Linked DNA regions of Homo sapiens. The protein of the gene in region 1 interacts with the protein of each later gene in a biochemical or structural test. Each region holds a gene or a part of one and is shown in the gene's direction. Other genes may lie near its edges.

What was found. Proteins that work in one complex are often made in the same cells at the same time.
Region 2: the proteins of PIP5K1C (region 1) and LAPTM4B form a complex in vitro, tested with the Homo sapiens proteins (one study listed by BioGRID).
Region 3: the proteins of PIP5K1C (region 1) and TLN2 form a complex in vitro, tested with the Homo sapiens proteins (one study listed by BioGRID).

Annotation. Positions count from the first base shown.
Region 1 is NC_000019.10:3,697,335-3,704,502, reverse strand, and holds the start of PIP5K1C (phosphatidylinositol 4-phosphate 5-kinase type-1 gamma), read left to right. Parts: upstream 1-4,034; 5' UTR 4,035-4,112; coding exon 4,113-4,206; intron 4,207-7,168. UniProt on the Homo sapiens protein: Catalyzes the phosphorylation of phosphatidylinositol 4-phosphate (PtdIns(4)P/PI4P) to form phosphatidylinositol 4,5-bisphosphate (PtdIns(4,5)P2/PIP2), a lipid second messenger that regulates several cellular processes such as signal transduction, vesicle trafficking, actin cytoskeleton dynamics, cell adhesion, and cell motility.
Region 2 is NC_000008.11:97,848,788-97,853,513, forward strand, and holds the end of LAPTM4B (lysosomal-associated transmembrane protein 4B), read left to right. Parts: intron 1-2,609; coding exon 2,610-2,687; 3' UTR 2,688-4,226; downstream 4,227-4,726. UniProt on the Homo sapiens protein: Required for optimal lysosomal function. Blocks EGF-stimulated EGFR intraluminal sorting and degradation.
Region 3 is NC_000015.10:62,841,550-62,845,131, forward strand, and holds the end of TLN2 (talin-2), read left to right. Parts: 3' UTR 1-3,082; downstream 3,083-3,582. UniProt on the Homo sapiens protein: As a major component of focal adhesion plaques that links integrin to the actin cytoskeleton, may play an important role in cell adhesion. Recruits PIP5K1C to focal adhesion plaques and strongly activates its kinase activity.

The DNA of each region.
Region 1 (7,168 bases):
TTGCCCAGGCTGGTCTTGAACTCCTGGGCTAAAGTGATTCTCCTGCCTCAGCCTCAATCCCAAAGCACTGGGATTACAGGCATGAACCACTGCACCTGGCTTTGGAACCTGCATTTCTAACAAGCTCCCAGGGTGAGGCTGATGTGGCTGGCCCAGGGACCACACCTTGAGAGCCAGTGGTCTAAATCTTTTTTCAAAACAGATTCTGGGTGAATCAGGAGCTCTGTCCATGACCTGCGTCCAAAGAACTCTTCCTGGAGCCTTAAAATGGTCAAGGCCGCCTGCAGTGGCTGACGCCTGTAATCCTCACACTTTGGGAGGCCGAGGTGGGCAGATCACCTGACACCAGCCTGGCCAACACAGTGAAATCCCATTTCTACTGAAATTACAAAAATTAGCCAGGTATGGTAGCACACACCTGTGGTCTCAGCTACTTGGGAGGCTGAGGTGGGAGGATCGCTTGAACCTGGGAGGCAGAGGCTGCAGTAAGCCGAGATCACGCCACTGCACTCCAGCCTGGGTAACAGAGCAAGACTCATCTCAAAAAAGAAAAAACAAAAAATGGTAGTAAAATACGCACAACATACAATTCACAATTTTCACCATTTCTTTTTTTTCGAGTCTTGCTCTGTTGCCCAGGCTGGAGTGCAGTGGTGCCATGTTGGCTCACTGCAACCTCTGCCTCTCAGGTTCAAGTGATTCTCCTGCCTCAGCCTCCCGAGTAGCTGGGATTATAGGCCTGTGCCACTATGCCCAGCTAATTTTTTGGTATTTTTAGTAGAGACAGGGTTTCACCACATTGACCAGGCTGGTCTTGAACTCCTGACCTTAGGTGATCTGCCAGCCTCGGCCTCCCAAAGTGCTGGGATGACAGGCGTGAGCCACCGCACCCGGCCCATTTTCACCATTTCTTTCTTCTTCTTCTTCTTCTTTTTTTTTTTTTTTTTTTTTTGGAGACAGAGTCTTGCTCTGTCGCCCAGGCTGGAGTGCAGTGGTGCCATGTTGGCTCACTGCAACCTCTGCCTTTCGGGTTCAAGTGATTCTCCTGCCTCAGCCTCCCGAGTAGCTGGGATTACAGGCACGCGCCACCACGCCTGGCTAATTTTGTATTTTTAGTAGAGACGGGGTTTCTCCATGTTAGTCAGGCTGGTCTTGAACTCCCGACCTCAGGTAATCCGCCCACCTCGGCCTCCCAAAGTGCTGGGATTGCAGGTGTGAGCCCCCGCGCCCGGCCCATTTTCACCATGTCTAAGAGCACAGCTCCGTGGCCTTAAGCACATTCCCATGGCTGTGCAAACATCACCGCCATCATCTCCAGAATGTTCTCATCTTCTGAGACTGGAAGTCTGCCCCTGTGAAACACTCACTCCTCGTCTCCCCCCAAGCCCCTGGCACCCCCCATCCTACTTTCTGTCTCTGTGAATGTGACAACTCTAGGGACCTCCTAGGAGTGGAACCACACAGAATTTGTCTTTTTGTTTTTTTTGTTTGTTTTTTTTTTTTGCGGGGACAGACGGGGTCTTTCTCTGTTGCCCAGGCCAGAGTGCAGTGGTGCGATCATAGCTCACTGCAGCCTTGAGTTCCCGGGCTCAAGCAGTCCTCCCACCTTAGCCTACTAAGTAGCTGGCTAATTAAAAAACAATTTTTTTTGTAAAGATGAGGGGTCTCACTACACCTAGCTAATTAAAAAAATTTTTTTTGTAGAGATGAGAGGGCTCACTATGTTACCCAGGCTGGTCTAGAACTCCTGAGCTCAAGTAATCCTCCTGCCTTGGCCTCCCAAAGTGCTGGAATTACAGGCGGGAGCCTCTGTGCCCACCCCAAACATTATTTATGTGCATAGGTAATATAATCATTATGATTTACATTTATGTAAATAATATAAACGTTATTACTTAAATTAACATAAACAACATAAGCCTTATTATGTGCTTATATAAAGAACATAAATATGGCCGGGCGCAGTGGCTCACACCTGTAATCCCAGCACTTTGGGAAGCTGAGGCGGGAAGATCACGAGGTCAGGCGTTCAAGACCAGCCTGGCCAACATGGCGAAACCTCATCTCTACTAAAAATACAAAAATTAGCCGGGCGTGGTGGCACGTACCTGTAGTCCTAGTTACTTGGGAGGGTGAGGCAGGAGAATCACTTGAACCCTGGAGGCAGAGGTTGCAGTGAGCTCAGATCGCCCCCCTGCACTCCAGCCTGGGCAACAACAGCAAGACTCCATCTCAAAAAAAAAAAAGAAGGATATAAATATTGCTACTTACATTTGCATAAATATATATAATTTATTATGTATTTCTATAATTATATGTTTCTTATAATAGCAAACTGTATTATTATTGATAAAATAATATAAAGAAAACAATAACATATCTATACTTACGTAATACAAACGATGGAATATAAATATTATTTGCAATATGATAATAAACAGGTAGTTAATTGCAAATGTTATTGATATGTATTGCGTAGATCAATGTTAATAACATGTATTGTGTAGATCTATATATATATATATTTTTTTTTGATATGGAGTCTCGCTCTGTTGCCCAGGCTGGAGTGCAGTGACACGATCTCAGCTCACTGCAAGCTCTGCCTCCCAGGTTCACCCTATTCTCCTGCCTTAGCCTCCCAAGTAGCTGGGACTACAGGCGCCCGCCACCACGCCTGGCTAATTTTTTGTATTTTTAGTAGAGACGGGGTTTCACCATGTTAACCAGGATGGTCTCAATCTCCTGACCTCGTGATCCGCCCGCCTCGGCCTCCCAAAGTCTTGGGATTACAGGCATGAGCCACCGCGCCCGGCCCTGTGTAGATCAATATTATTTACATGTACTGTGTATATCACTGTTATTGGTATATTTTGTGCATATCAATGTTATTGACATGTAGTGTGTATATCAATGTTATTGACATGTAGTGTGTACATTAATGTTATTGGCATGTAGTGTGTATATCAATGTTATTGGCATGTAGTGTGTATATCCATGTTATTGGCATGTAGTGTGTATATCAATGTTATTGACATGTAGTGTGTGTATCAATGTTAGTTACATGTATTGTGTAGATCAATGTTATTGGTATTCATTGTGTATAGCAATGTGATTGGCATGTATTGCATATAGCAATGCTATTTGTATGTTTTATGTAGATCCATGTCAATGATATAGTATAGATTCATGTTATTGGCATGTATTGTGTATATCCATGTTATTGGCATGTATTGTGCATATCCGTGTTATTGGCATGTATTGTGTATATCCATGTTATTGGCATGCATTGGGTAACTCCATGTTATTGGCATGTGCTGTGTAGGTCCATGTGTGGTTTTTTTTGGGACAGAGTCTCACTCTGTGGCCCAGGCTGGAGGGCAATGGTGCGATCTCAGCTCACTGCAACCTCTCCCTCCTGGGTTCCAGCGATTCTCCTGCCTCAGCCTCCCGAGTAGCCGCGATTACAGGCATGTGCCACCACGCCCAGCTATTTTTTGTATTTTTAGTAGAGACAGGATTTCACCATGTTGGTCAGGATGGTCTTGAACTCCTGACCTCAGGTGATCCGCCCTCTTCGGCCTCCCAAAGTGCCGGGAATATAGGCGTGAGTCACCGCGCCCGGCCAGATCCATGTTATTGTCATGCGCTGTGCAGGTCCCTGTTATTGGCATGTGCTGTTTAGATCCATGTTATTGGCATGTGCTGTGTACATCCATATTATTGGCACGTGCTGTATAGATCCATATTATTGTCATGTGTTGTGTAGATCCATGTTATTGGTATGTGTTGTGCACAGCAATGTTATTGATACGTATCGTGCCTGTCAATCTTACTGACCTAATACGATGGAATGGCGAGCCTGGCTCTGTACTCCCACCCCTGGGCGCGAGGGGGCACTCGAGGCGCTCCTGGCTGCGGGTCGCAAGCAGGCCCCGCCCCCGAGCCCCGATTGGCCGCGCGCCGTCCGCGGCGTCGCACGCACGCAGGCCCCGCCCCGTCCGCCCCGCGCCGGCCCGGCGCGCCCTCCCTTGGCCGGCGGCGCTTGTTGTTCGGCGGCGGCGGTCGCAGCTCGGGTCCCCCTCGGGCGCCCCCGCCGCCGTCCGCGCGCGGCCATGGAGCTGGAGGTACCGGACGAGGCGGAGAGCGCTGAGGCGGGGGCCGTGCCCTCGGAGGCGGCGTGGGCGGCAGAGAGCGGGGCGGCGGCAGGTAACGGCCCGGCCTCCCGGGGCTGCGGCCCGCTGGGCTCGTCCGAGCGCCGAGAGTCGCGGGGCTGCGGGGCCGGGGCGGGGGCTGCACGGTCGCTGCGGGGGCGCCGCCGGTTCCAGGAGCCTGGGGCGGGGCAGTCCCCTGGAGCCGCGGGGAGGACGGGGCTGAAGCCGCGCCGGGAAGCGGGAGGCCTGCGAGGGGCTACCTCCCACCGCTCCCGGGCCGGGGGCGACTCGGCGTGGGCGCCGCTGGGGATCCCCGTTCTGCCTGACCCGCTCCCAGGGGCTGCCCGTCGTGTGAGTGGCGGCTGCTTGGGTGGAGGCGGGGGTCTCTGAGGCCGTGCGTGCCCACCTCCTGATGTCACCTCCCTTTCTGTAAGTCCCCAGACCTGAGTCCGGGTGCGCGACCTTTCCTCACCTTCCTGGGCCTCAGTTTACCTCCCTGCTAAAATGAGGGGAGGAAAAGGGTTACATCTCAAGATGCCTCCACCGCCCCGGCTGTGCACACAGGGTGCCCTGTCGCCCCCTTTTCCTCTCCCCGAGCCTTCCCCCAGGACACACTGGTGGGGCTGCGGGCTGGGCGGGGGGCACGGCTGTCTCATGCCCCCTTTAGCTGCTTCCTGGACCTCCAGCCGGGTAGGTGGCGGCAGCTGGGCCTTCCCTTCTGTGGGGACGGTGTGCAGAGCCCAGAGGAAGGGAACAGTTCCTTCTCAGTCGAGGTCACAAGCTCCCAAATCGGAAGTTTCCGGATTCACAAAATCCTCTGCTCCTCCCAGGCAGCCAGCAGCAGCGTCTCTGTAGACACCCACACGGGCATCCGTCCTCCTTCTCCCCCCAGGCCTCCCGAAGCTTCCTTGGTTGGCAGGCGGGCAAGCGGGCGGGCGGGCGATGCGTGCTGCCTGGGAGTTGGGGAGATGTCTGGAGAGAGAGAGAGTGTGGAAGTCATCAAGTCCCCCCCCCACCCCCCGCCTTGAAAGACACTCGTGGCTTCCCTCCCGGCGGCCATCTGGAACCGCTTGGTAGGTGACCCGGTTCCTTCCCCAGAGCCAGTGGCCTCGCCCCTTTCTTTGCGGGCAGCCGGTGTCCTGGCCTGGCCAGCAAGAGACATGGTGGAGGAACCCAGGCAGGGCACCAGGCCCCAGCCCGGGTTCCTTTCTTGGGCCCCCCAACTTCCGCTGTCAGCCCTCTGACCCCAGCTGGTCAGAGACAAAGTAGCCCAGGACTCGCTGACCAAAAGAAAACCACACCGCGACCATTCATCTTATCAGGGGCTCTGGGAGCACCGGGGACAGATAAAGTTGCCAGCTCCAGACTGAGCATGGTGGTGGGGTGGGAGAGCGGGGGAGTGGGGGGGTGGGGGTGGGGGGCCGGGGAGGGCTGGAAGGTCAGGGTCTGGCATCTCTGCCCATCCCTGAAATCCACAGAAATCTGACCCCAGCTGGCCATATACTGCTTCTGAATGTTTAAAATTCAGAGTTGCCTCACTCCTCCAACGCCATCCCTCCTGATGTTAGCGCTGGTGAGTTTAGGTTGTGCCTGGCTGGGCCACAGAGACGTGAGCACATAAAGGGGCCTGCTTGTTCTTCACCGAGATGGTTTCATGCCTCACTGGGGCTTCTGTGCCTTGGCAGAGGTATTTTGAGTCAGGAAATTAGGGGTGCTGAGCAACGCCCCTGGCTTCTGCCCACTCCATGCCAGGAGCACCTGCCAGTTGTGACAGCCACAAGTGACCCAGACACCGTTCAGTGTCCCCTGGGGGCAGGACGGCCCTGGTGAGAAATGCCACACGTTTATGACTCTGTGAACTGCTTGCTTTTTATCTCTGGTCATCTGGAGTCTCCCCACCCTATGTTGGTATCGGTTTGTAGAGAGGGCGAGCGCCAGGCAGTGGTTAAGGGGGAGCCCCAGAGTTGGTCCCGCCGATGTCCCCCTCCCAGCTCCGCGCTTCAGGTGCTGTGTGGCCGTCACTTCCCCGGGCTTCAGCGTCCCGTCTGTGAAGTGGGGTGATGACCGTGTGTGCTAGGGGCTGAGCCTGGGATGAGTTGGCGCTCGTGCTTGGTGATTGTCGTGCCGGTTGGCCACCCCTTTCCGGCCTCTCCACCATCGGTGCCTCCAGGCCCCTGCTGAGGCCCATGCCCGTGGTTTCTGGAGTCACCGCTCACTGTTAGAAGCGATGGCGACACCTTCCAGAAAGCTCAGCTACAGCGGGAGCCTTGTCCGACAGGGGCCGAGGGAGGCTGCCCGTTTCCCACGGCACTGCCAGCTCCCAGTGTCATCGTCCTTGGCGATTTCGGCTGATCCGATGGGAGGCAAAGCAATGTCTCGTTGGTGTTTAGAATTTGGTTCCTCTAATTGCCTGGGCTCCTGGCTCCCGAGGCGTGGCCTGAATGGCGTCTCCATGGGCCGTGGCCGTGGGGCACGTGGGGGCGGTCTCGGGAAGGCCGGGGCTTGGGATGCGGCTGTGCCCACTGTGTGGGCCGATGGCCTGTGGTGGAGTTTGGTCTGAGCTGTGGCCTGGGCGTGTCTGAGCCTCTCCCAGGCTGTCCTGTCTCTGTGATGCCCCAGAACGGTCAGCTCCATCCCTGCCCCTGCCCCACTCCCACGGCTGATCTGTCTCTGTGATGCCCTGGAAAGGTCAGCTGCATCCCTGCCCCTGCCCCACTTCCACGGCTGATCTGGCAGCAAATGATGGCAGCTTCACCTTCAGAACTGGCCCAGAACCCACTGACTCCTTCCCTGTCCTCTGCCTCTCCCGGGTCCAGCTTGGTCCTCCCGGGTCCAGCTTGGTCCTCCCTGGTCCAGCTCGGTCCTCCCCGGTCCAGCTCGGTCCTCCTCGGTCCAGCTCGGTCCTCCTCCGTACAGCTCGGTCCTCCTCCGTCTGGCTGAGTACTCCCCGGTCCAGCTCAGTCCTCCTCCGTCTGGCTCAGTCCTCCTCTGTCTGGCTCGGTCCTCCCCGGTCCAGC
Region 2 (4,726 bases), on another chromosome or scaffold:
CTGGTGCGGTCACAGCTGTTTCCACTTGTTATAAGTTGCTGTATCTAATGCACACACACGTATGTGCGCTGGGGGCTCAGTCCTAAAGTCAAATATGCACACGCAGAGAAGACAGCTGTTGCTTTGTTTTAGAGAATACTTTTTTCTTCCCGCAGCTCAAGCTGACACTTTTGGAATTGCTAGTGGAGATGCTGTTGTTAGATACTGGCTAGAACTTGTCAAGGTCGACCATGAGGCTCTCTTCATGTGCTGACCTGTGCCTATCTTTCCAACTTCATCTCTGCAACATTCTCCCTTCAGTGTTCACTGTAGCAAACACCTTGCAGTTCCCAGAAAGTGCCCTGTGTCCTGCTTTCCTCTTAACTCCCTACTGGAATGTCATCCTCTTTACTGCACACCTGGTCATCCTACTGAGAGGCCTTCCTTGACTCCCTAGCCTAAATTGGTTGTCCTTGTCTGTTCTTTCCTAACTTGTCTGCATCCACACATTGCTCATGTTGAGTTTTACCTGTGTCTGCCTTCTGCTAGATTGCAGGCCCCTGAACAGACAGTGACATGTTTTCAGGTTCAAGTCGCTGTGACTGAGTTCCCTGGACACCTAGGTGCTCAGTGGGTGCTGGTTTGTTGGACTTAGTTTCCTGCTGTGCTTCCTTACCTCAGGCATGTGTTCTGTACTGAGTGTATCTTGCCTACTCCATTCCTTTTCCACGTGGGCAACGCTGAACATTTGCCCCAGACTCTGTATCTTGGTTAATACCTGACATATAAAGTATTTAGCACATAGGCAAAGATCACTACCTCTTTCAGGAACAAAGGCCGGCTGGCGGGTGCGACTCTGGCGCATTGCCTTTGCCTGTGTGTTGCTGGCCAGTTATCGGCTTCTTGCATCACAGCTCCAGAGTCCCATTTAGCTTGACATGGGCTGGGCCTTGCAGATACTCCTCCTTCACCTCCTGACCCTGTTCAGCCAGGCCAGTAGGGGGCACTGGAGGAGGAAAGCCGCCACCCCCCCTCCTCCACCCCCCTGCCCGCCTGCCCGCCCCCGGTTCCTGTGTGTTTCTGCAGTGTTCAGATCTTGCTGGCAGTGCTCCCCAGGGCCCAGTGCGAGCGGAGACAGCGGTGGCAGCGCCTCTCAGGCGGTTTCCAGAGCGGGCCGTGGCTCCCGGGAACGGCTTCCCGCAGGTGATTCTGTGCACACTGGCCTCTACCTGGTTCAGCGGGAAGCCTCTCCACTGTCCAATGGGCTTCAGCCACACCCTCCCTAGCCGTGTCTCAGCCCAGCCTTGGGGACCTCTGTTCTAGCTTGTTCCGTCCCTGAGTGCCGTACTTCAATCTTCTTATCCATTAGTGCTCTTTCCCCGCCATGAGTCAGTTCCCGGTTCCTCAGTCTCCTGTTAATAATTCTTCATGAAACTATATTCACATCACTGTGTGGCTTCTGTGTTCTGACTGGACCCTAGCCAGTACAGGTGCCCTCTGCCTAGGCAGCTGAAGGAACCATACAGGCTTTTCGGGGGCCGGCCTAAGTGGCACCTCCGTCACTCCGCAAACATCTGAGTTCCTGCTGTCGGATAGGCACTGGCCCACCCTCGAGGAAGTGAGACCTGGCTTCAGCCCCACAGGAGCTCCAAGACTGGGAGGAGAGAAGTAATGAAGTGTGTAGAGCTGGAGAGGAGGGGTGTGTGTGTGTGTGTGTGTGTGTTTGGGAGAGTGCAATGTGACAAAAACTTAACAAAATTTTAGTGTGGTTCTAGTAGGAGCTAAAGGGACAGATAAATGAAAATTAACAAAATTGATGAATACCACTTTAAGCATAAGTGATATCCCTGATAGAAAATCTAACCAAGTGTGGTTTTGTTTGTGAATAGTCTTTCCCTTTCCACAAATCACTTGAGGTGGGTGAGGTTTTGTTTTGTCTTCTCATCTCTGAACTCCTAAAGGGCAGGGACTGTCTTTTGTCTCAATTATCTTATACTCACAATGACTATTACATACTAGATGCATAATAAATGTTAGTTTACTGAATGAAGGGTGATATAACTATTCTGTATTCCATTTTCTACTCCAAGAAAGCCGAAATCAGCCAGTGTATAGACCGCCAACTCTGAGGTATCCTTATTTCATAGACATGGAAACTGATGTTAAGGAACTTACCCAAGGCTACGCTGATAAAATGTGACTGACCCAGGCTTTGAATCCAGGCTGATACCAAAAGCTTGGCGTTTTCACTGCACTTTGCAGTTCTCACCATGAGTGGTTACTGTAGTCAATCAAGTGCCTGCCCTATTTGTGTGTGCACATGGACACACTCACCTAGGGGTCTTTTTTCCTCTTCAGAGCCATCACCATTTCTTTTAGAGTCACCGACCTCTGGCCATCCAGCTACACATGGACAGGGTTAGAAAAACTCAAGGCTTGAGAGTCGCTCTCCATTTGCTCCTTTAAGGATTCAAAAAGTCTTTTAATGAAGTGTATCCACTTGCTAGAAAATTGAACTTGGTACAAGTTGTGGAACATGTTTAGTTGCATAAAAGTTCAGTAAAAGCTAAACCTCGGGGAACGTGTGTGCTCTTCAAACATTAACTCTTGCCGTCCCTCTTTCTTCTCAGGTGCTGCTACCCCCGTATGATGATGCCACTGTGAATGGTGCTGCCAAGGAGCCACCGCCACCTTACGTGTCTGCCTAAGCCTTCAAGTGGGCGGAGCTGAGGGCAGCAGCTTGACTTTGCAGACATCTGAGCAATAGTTCTGTTATTTCACTTTTGCCATGAGCCTCTCTGAGCTTGTTTGTTGCTGAAATGCTACTTTTTAAAATTTAGATGTTAGATTGAAAACTGTAGTTTTCAACATATGCTTTGCTGGAACACTGTGATAGATTAACTGTAGAATTCTTCCTGTACGATTGGGGATATAATGGGCTTCACTAACCTTCCCTAGGCATTGAAACTTCCCCCAAATCTGATGGACCTAGAAGTCTGCTTTTGTACCTGCTGGGCCCCAAAGTTGGGCATTTTTCTCTCTGTTCCCTCTCTTTTGAAAATGTAAAATAAAACCAAAAATAGACAACTTTTTCTTCAGCCATTCCAGCATAGAGAACAAAACCTTATGGAAACAGGAATGTCAATTGTGTAATCATTGTTCTAATTAGGTAAATAGAAGTCCTTATGTATGTGTTACAAGAATTTCCCCCACAACATCCTTTATGACTGAAGTTCAATGACAGTTTGTGTTTGGTGGTAAAGGATTTTCTCCATGGCCTGAATTAAGACCATTAGAAAGCACCAGGCCGTGGGAGCAGTGACCATCTGCTGACTGTTCTTGTGGATCTTGTGTCCAGGGACATGGGGTGACATGCCTCGTATGTGTTAGAGGGTGGAATGGATGTGTTTGGCGCTGCATGGGATCTGGTGCCCCTCTTCTCCTGGATTCACATCCCCACCCAGGGCCCGCTTTTACTAAGTGTTCTGCCCTAGATTGGTTCAAGGAGGTCATCCAACTGACTTTATCAAGTGGAATTGGGATATATTTGATATACTTCTGCCTAACAACATGGAAAAGGGTTTTCTTTTCCCTGCAAGCTACATCCTACTGCTTTGAACTTCCAAGTATGTCTAGTCACCTTTTAAAATGTAAACATTTTCAGAAAAATGAGGATTGCCTTCCTTGTATGCGCTTTTTACCTTGACTACCTGAATTGCAAGGGATTTTTATATATTCATATGTTACAAAGTCAGCAACTCTCCTGTTGGTTCATTATTGAATGTGCTGTAAATTAAGTTGTTTGCAATTAAAACAAGGTTTGCCCACATCCAAGATGACCTTGTGATTTTGTGCTGATTGTGTCTGAGGACCTTTCCCTCCACATATGGTCTGGCAGATGCACCCAGTTCAGCCTAAGGAGTAGGCTTTTTTTTGGGGGGGGGAGGTCGGGTGGGGGGGATTTTTAATCTTTTAATTTTCAAGATGGTTAAAATATTGAAATGTTTAAGTGGATAACTATATTATTCATAAAATGACTGAGTGAAAACTAATACACTATGAGATGAAAAGTACTTGTCAGGGATTTTCAAGCTTTTGCTCAAGTAATTACTATGAAATAACAATTTCTAGAAATGAAGAACAATCCGTGGAGAATAAATTACCATTGGTGTGGGGGAAAAAAGCCAAACAGAAGTAGAAAAAGGTGTAGCCGGCATACAAATGTTATCTACAGTGTATTTTTAGATTTTTTATACTTGACCAGGTCTCTTATGTCCTTTTTCTGGAAAACTGTTTTTAACTACTAAAGTGATTATAAATGAAAAAGTGGCCAGTAAAGTGACTACTATCTTCAGGGCTTTAAACCAGTTGGGATAATGTGGTAAGAGAAAAAGTTGAAGGTGTAATGCTACCCGCATACCCATTATTACTGTGACTATGGCTTCACTAAGTCTTTCAGAAATAAGAAGGCAAACCATGAAAAGAAAAGAGGAGCTGTACTGCTAGCTAAATTAAGGTAGTCTGGTTTGGCTGGACTACCTTCTGGTAGAGCAAAACCGCATCTGATCCCACCCAAGAAAGATGGAAACTGGCTCCATAAGCCATCTGAGTAAAAGCTAATATGGGAATATAAGTTTTTGTCATCAGCATGACCAGTGGTGGGGCAACGAAGGGGATTAGTCCTGCCAGAGTTACATATAATGCTGGCTTTGGGCTGTCAGTTAGGTAAGTGATGGTGCTTGGTGGC
Region 3 (3,582 bases), on another chromosome or scaffold:
CTGCTTACAAACCTGTCCCCTGTCCTCCAACCCAAAACGCCTTTTTTTCTGTCTTAATATCCAGAAAATCTAAATGCATCCTAAAATCAATGTGAACCTTTAACAAGATAGTTTTACTTATTATCACATAAGACATAAGATGTTTTCATTTTCTGGATGTCACACTTCCAGAATTTCATATTTTTCCCCTCTTTTCTTTCCCCTTTTCAGAGCCCTCCCATAGGAAGGGAAGGGCTTGAATTTACCCTTAATCTGCACCTTTAGCCAAGGCAGTGCATGGAAGATGAATGGCTCGTGGGACAGAATCTAATGCCAGGGAGCAGGAGTGTTTGAAAGAATTCATAGTGGGGAAGGTAAAAGTTAATGGAAGTACATGATTTTCAAAACTGGTAACAGTTAAAGGCACTCACCCTCCGCCTCTCTCTCTCTCTCTCTCTCTGGTGTGCTATCATGTCTTGGACTCCATCCACACTATAGTTTCAAAGTTCCACTGACGGGGGAAAGTTGGTGCTTTGGTCCTCCGAAGATGTCACCTTTCGACCTTGCCCGATCTTGTTTCACCAGACTCTAGCCCATGTCATGGTTTTAAAATACATAAACTTCTGACAGCTTCCCATATTTATAAGTTACTTATAAGTGCTGCACGTATTAGAATTTTTTTTTTTCAGACCAGTAAAGTTAGAGAAAAGACGCTGTAAAGGAAAAGCAAGTGAGAGTATGTGTAGGACACTGACAGTGTGTGGGCACCAGTTCTGAAGAGGAGGGGAGCTGCTGGAGCCCTAGCCTGTTGGGGAAAAGCTGGCACACTCTTGGCTCGCCCTCTTTGAGTGGAGCTGATCCAACACCTCATGCCTGCCTTGGCCGGACACTGAGAGGAGGGGCACACGTGCTTCCAGAGACACTCAGGAGTCAGACCCCAATGCTCAGAGTCACAATGTGTTCATGGCCTCCTGTAACAGGACTCTGGGGATCCCCTCTGTGGCCCAGCCCACCCCACCCTCTGCTCTTCTATGCTGTGCCCAGGGCAGCTGCCCTCTTCTGCCTGTGCCCCATCCCATCCTGAAAACCCAGGACCAAGGCAGGGGCAGGCAGCCAGTTCTTCCACCTTGCCTCAGAGTCATTTAAAACCTTTACTGCATTTGATACCAGAAAAGCCTCCAGAGACAAACCAAATGCAAAGGCCTTTCCTTTATAACTCTAAAGAACAGGCATCGAAAGTTTATTTTTGTAGGAGCTATATAAATACTCACCTTTCTGGAGTCGTCCAGTGCTGGGAGCTTTGGGGAGTTTGGTTCTCAGTTATCACCTGGTATGGTCCCAGTTTCTCATCTGTCCTTTCCTCATCCACCCTGCACATGTGTATGTGAACGGCTTCGTGGCCGGTGTGGTGGTTTCTCATTTCATAAGATAGTTGAAGGGCCATGCCTTGTCTGGATGTTATTTAATAGGCACTACTGCGGTGTCCTCAGATGGTACTGAGGGGGCCTTCTGGTCCTTCAAAGGAAAATAACACAGGCATGAGTTCATTTGGGAGTGTGAACTTTCAGAACACCTAATAAGAGAGTGGTGTCAGAGTAAAAACGGCCCCAGGTCTGGAGCATAGAAGTGTATCTCTGTGAAGAGAGAGCCGGTGTGTTGACATGTGGTTCTTCTCACACCCCTCTACTCCTCGAGGGCTTTGAATCCTTGGGCTGATTTTTGTGCCAGAAATTGCTGTTCCCGATGGCCAAAAGGGGAACCTGAACTGGATTTCAGAACTGCCCAGTGATTTGAAAATTTAGATTTTACTTGGGCCTTTCAGGAGTCTTTAGATAGGGATGCTGAGGTCATATTTAGTTCAATGAACAGCCCTTGTTTAAGTTTTGCCAGTGTCCAGCCAGCTGTGGCCCTGGCCATCTGTGCAGGCAGGTTCCTCAATTCCTGGTTGGCCCTGCAGTCGGTCAACACAGTCCCTCCAGGTCGGCTGCAGAGGCAGCTGCCCAGCCTGCAGTCTATGCACGGGCCTTAAGAAATGAGCTGCCTGTAGCCTCACGGCATATGCTTTTATCAGGGAAAACCCTTCGAGCTTCTTCTGATTCTCACCTGCTTGCTTTCTGGCTGTCTTAGTCAGTGTGTTTACAGGCAACTAAAGCCTGTTCCTAATTTATCAAAAAATTATAACCAAAATTCACCATAGCCTAAGAGAGTAAACCCCACCTCCAAAGTGATGCCAAGGCCAAAACCTCATCAAGGAACCAGACACAGGTCAAAAGTGGTGAGCAAGCCATGGTCTCTGCTCCTGGGGAACTCACACGCTGACCCCCGAGGAGCCTTGGTTTCCTCCCTGGCAGATAGTCCCCAGAATCTTCTCTCCCAGCTTTGAGGTTCTGGGCTCTGGAAAGGCCTCTGGGATGCTGGCCTTAAGATCTCAGCACAGACTATCAGCATGTTCCATTCTCAGATTCCTGGAGGAAAGGTACCCTCTGTTGACCAAGGGGCTGGCTGCTTCTGAGACTTACCAACCCAAGAAATTTGGAGACATTCCCCTCAGGCTAAAAGGCAGCGGTCCCCAGAGTTCAGAAAGCAAAAGATCTTGACAACTGTGCCAGTAGTGGCTCTGGTCCTATCTCTCCACAGTGCTGGCCTCTGCTGGGGAAGGCATCTTTCCCAAAGGTATCCCCAAGTACCATGTTGAAAATGTCCTCAGTCTGTTGCTCCATCTTTCTGAGCCTCTGCTTGGTATGTCATGTTTATGGTCACTACGGATGAGTGTGTGCAGAGTTTGGGTTGATTCTTTTAAATGCTACAAACAAGAGCTATTTCTTTTCAATAAAAAAGGTTTGGATTCGGCCTCTTCCTCTGAGCCCACCTCCCAGCCCTCCAGGGAGCATCAGTGTACCTGAGTCACTTTGTCTGCATCTCTTCATCCCACAAAACACGAGGCTGGGTCTCATTCAGCGGCCTCTCACCAACCTTCAAGATCCAGAAGAAAACAGGAACGTTCAGCTCTGCCCTGTGTCGTATCTAATCACATACATTAATTTATCTAACCACATAAGTTATTTTTTTTTATTTGCCAGAAATAAACCTTTAAAGGAACAAACCTGTGTGGAGGACTCATGGGAATGGGAGGAAGATGGAAAAGAAGGGGGAAGAGACTGTCTTTATCATGAGAGTAAAATTCCACCTTGAGGACTAGCTCCATAGTTACCAGAGGTATGTCAGGAGAGAGCACGTGTGTGTGAGTGAGTGACAGACGCAGAGCCACAGGGTGCCACAGAATTTCATGTAGCTTTGCTGACAAGAGTTAACTTGGAGAAACTCCAGGAGCAGGCGTCCTGGACAAGTAGCTAGGGGGCTTTTTGGCTTTACATACCGCCTCTGTCAGAAGACCGCACAGCTGAATACAGAAGTGCATATGGGATCATCTCCAATCTTGACCCAGGTCCTGGCACAGGAAGGTTAGGTTCACTTCTGACAGCTGAGGCCACAACTGCAACCCCCGGAGACTGCCAGGCCCTCCTTCCTGTTTGGACTGGGAATTGCTGGGGGCCAGAAGTCCTTGTTTGTGGCGGGGCAGCCAGACTTAGAAAAGTGTGAGGC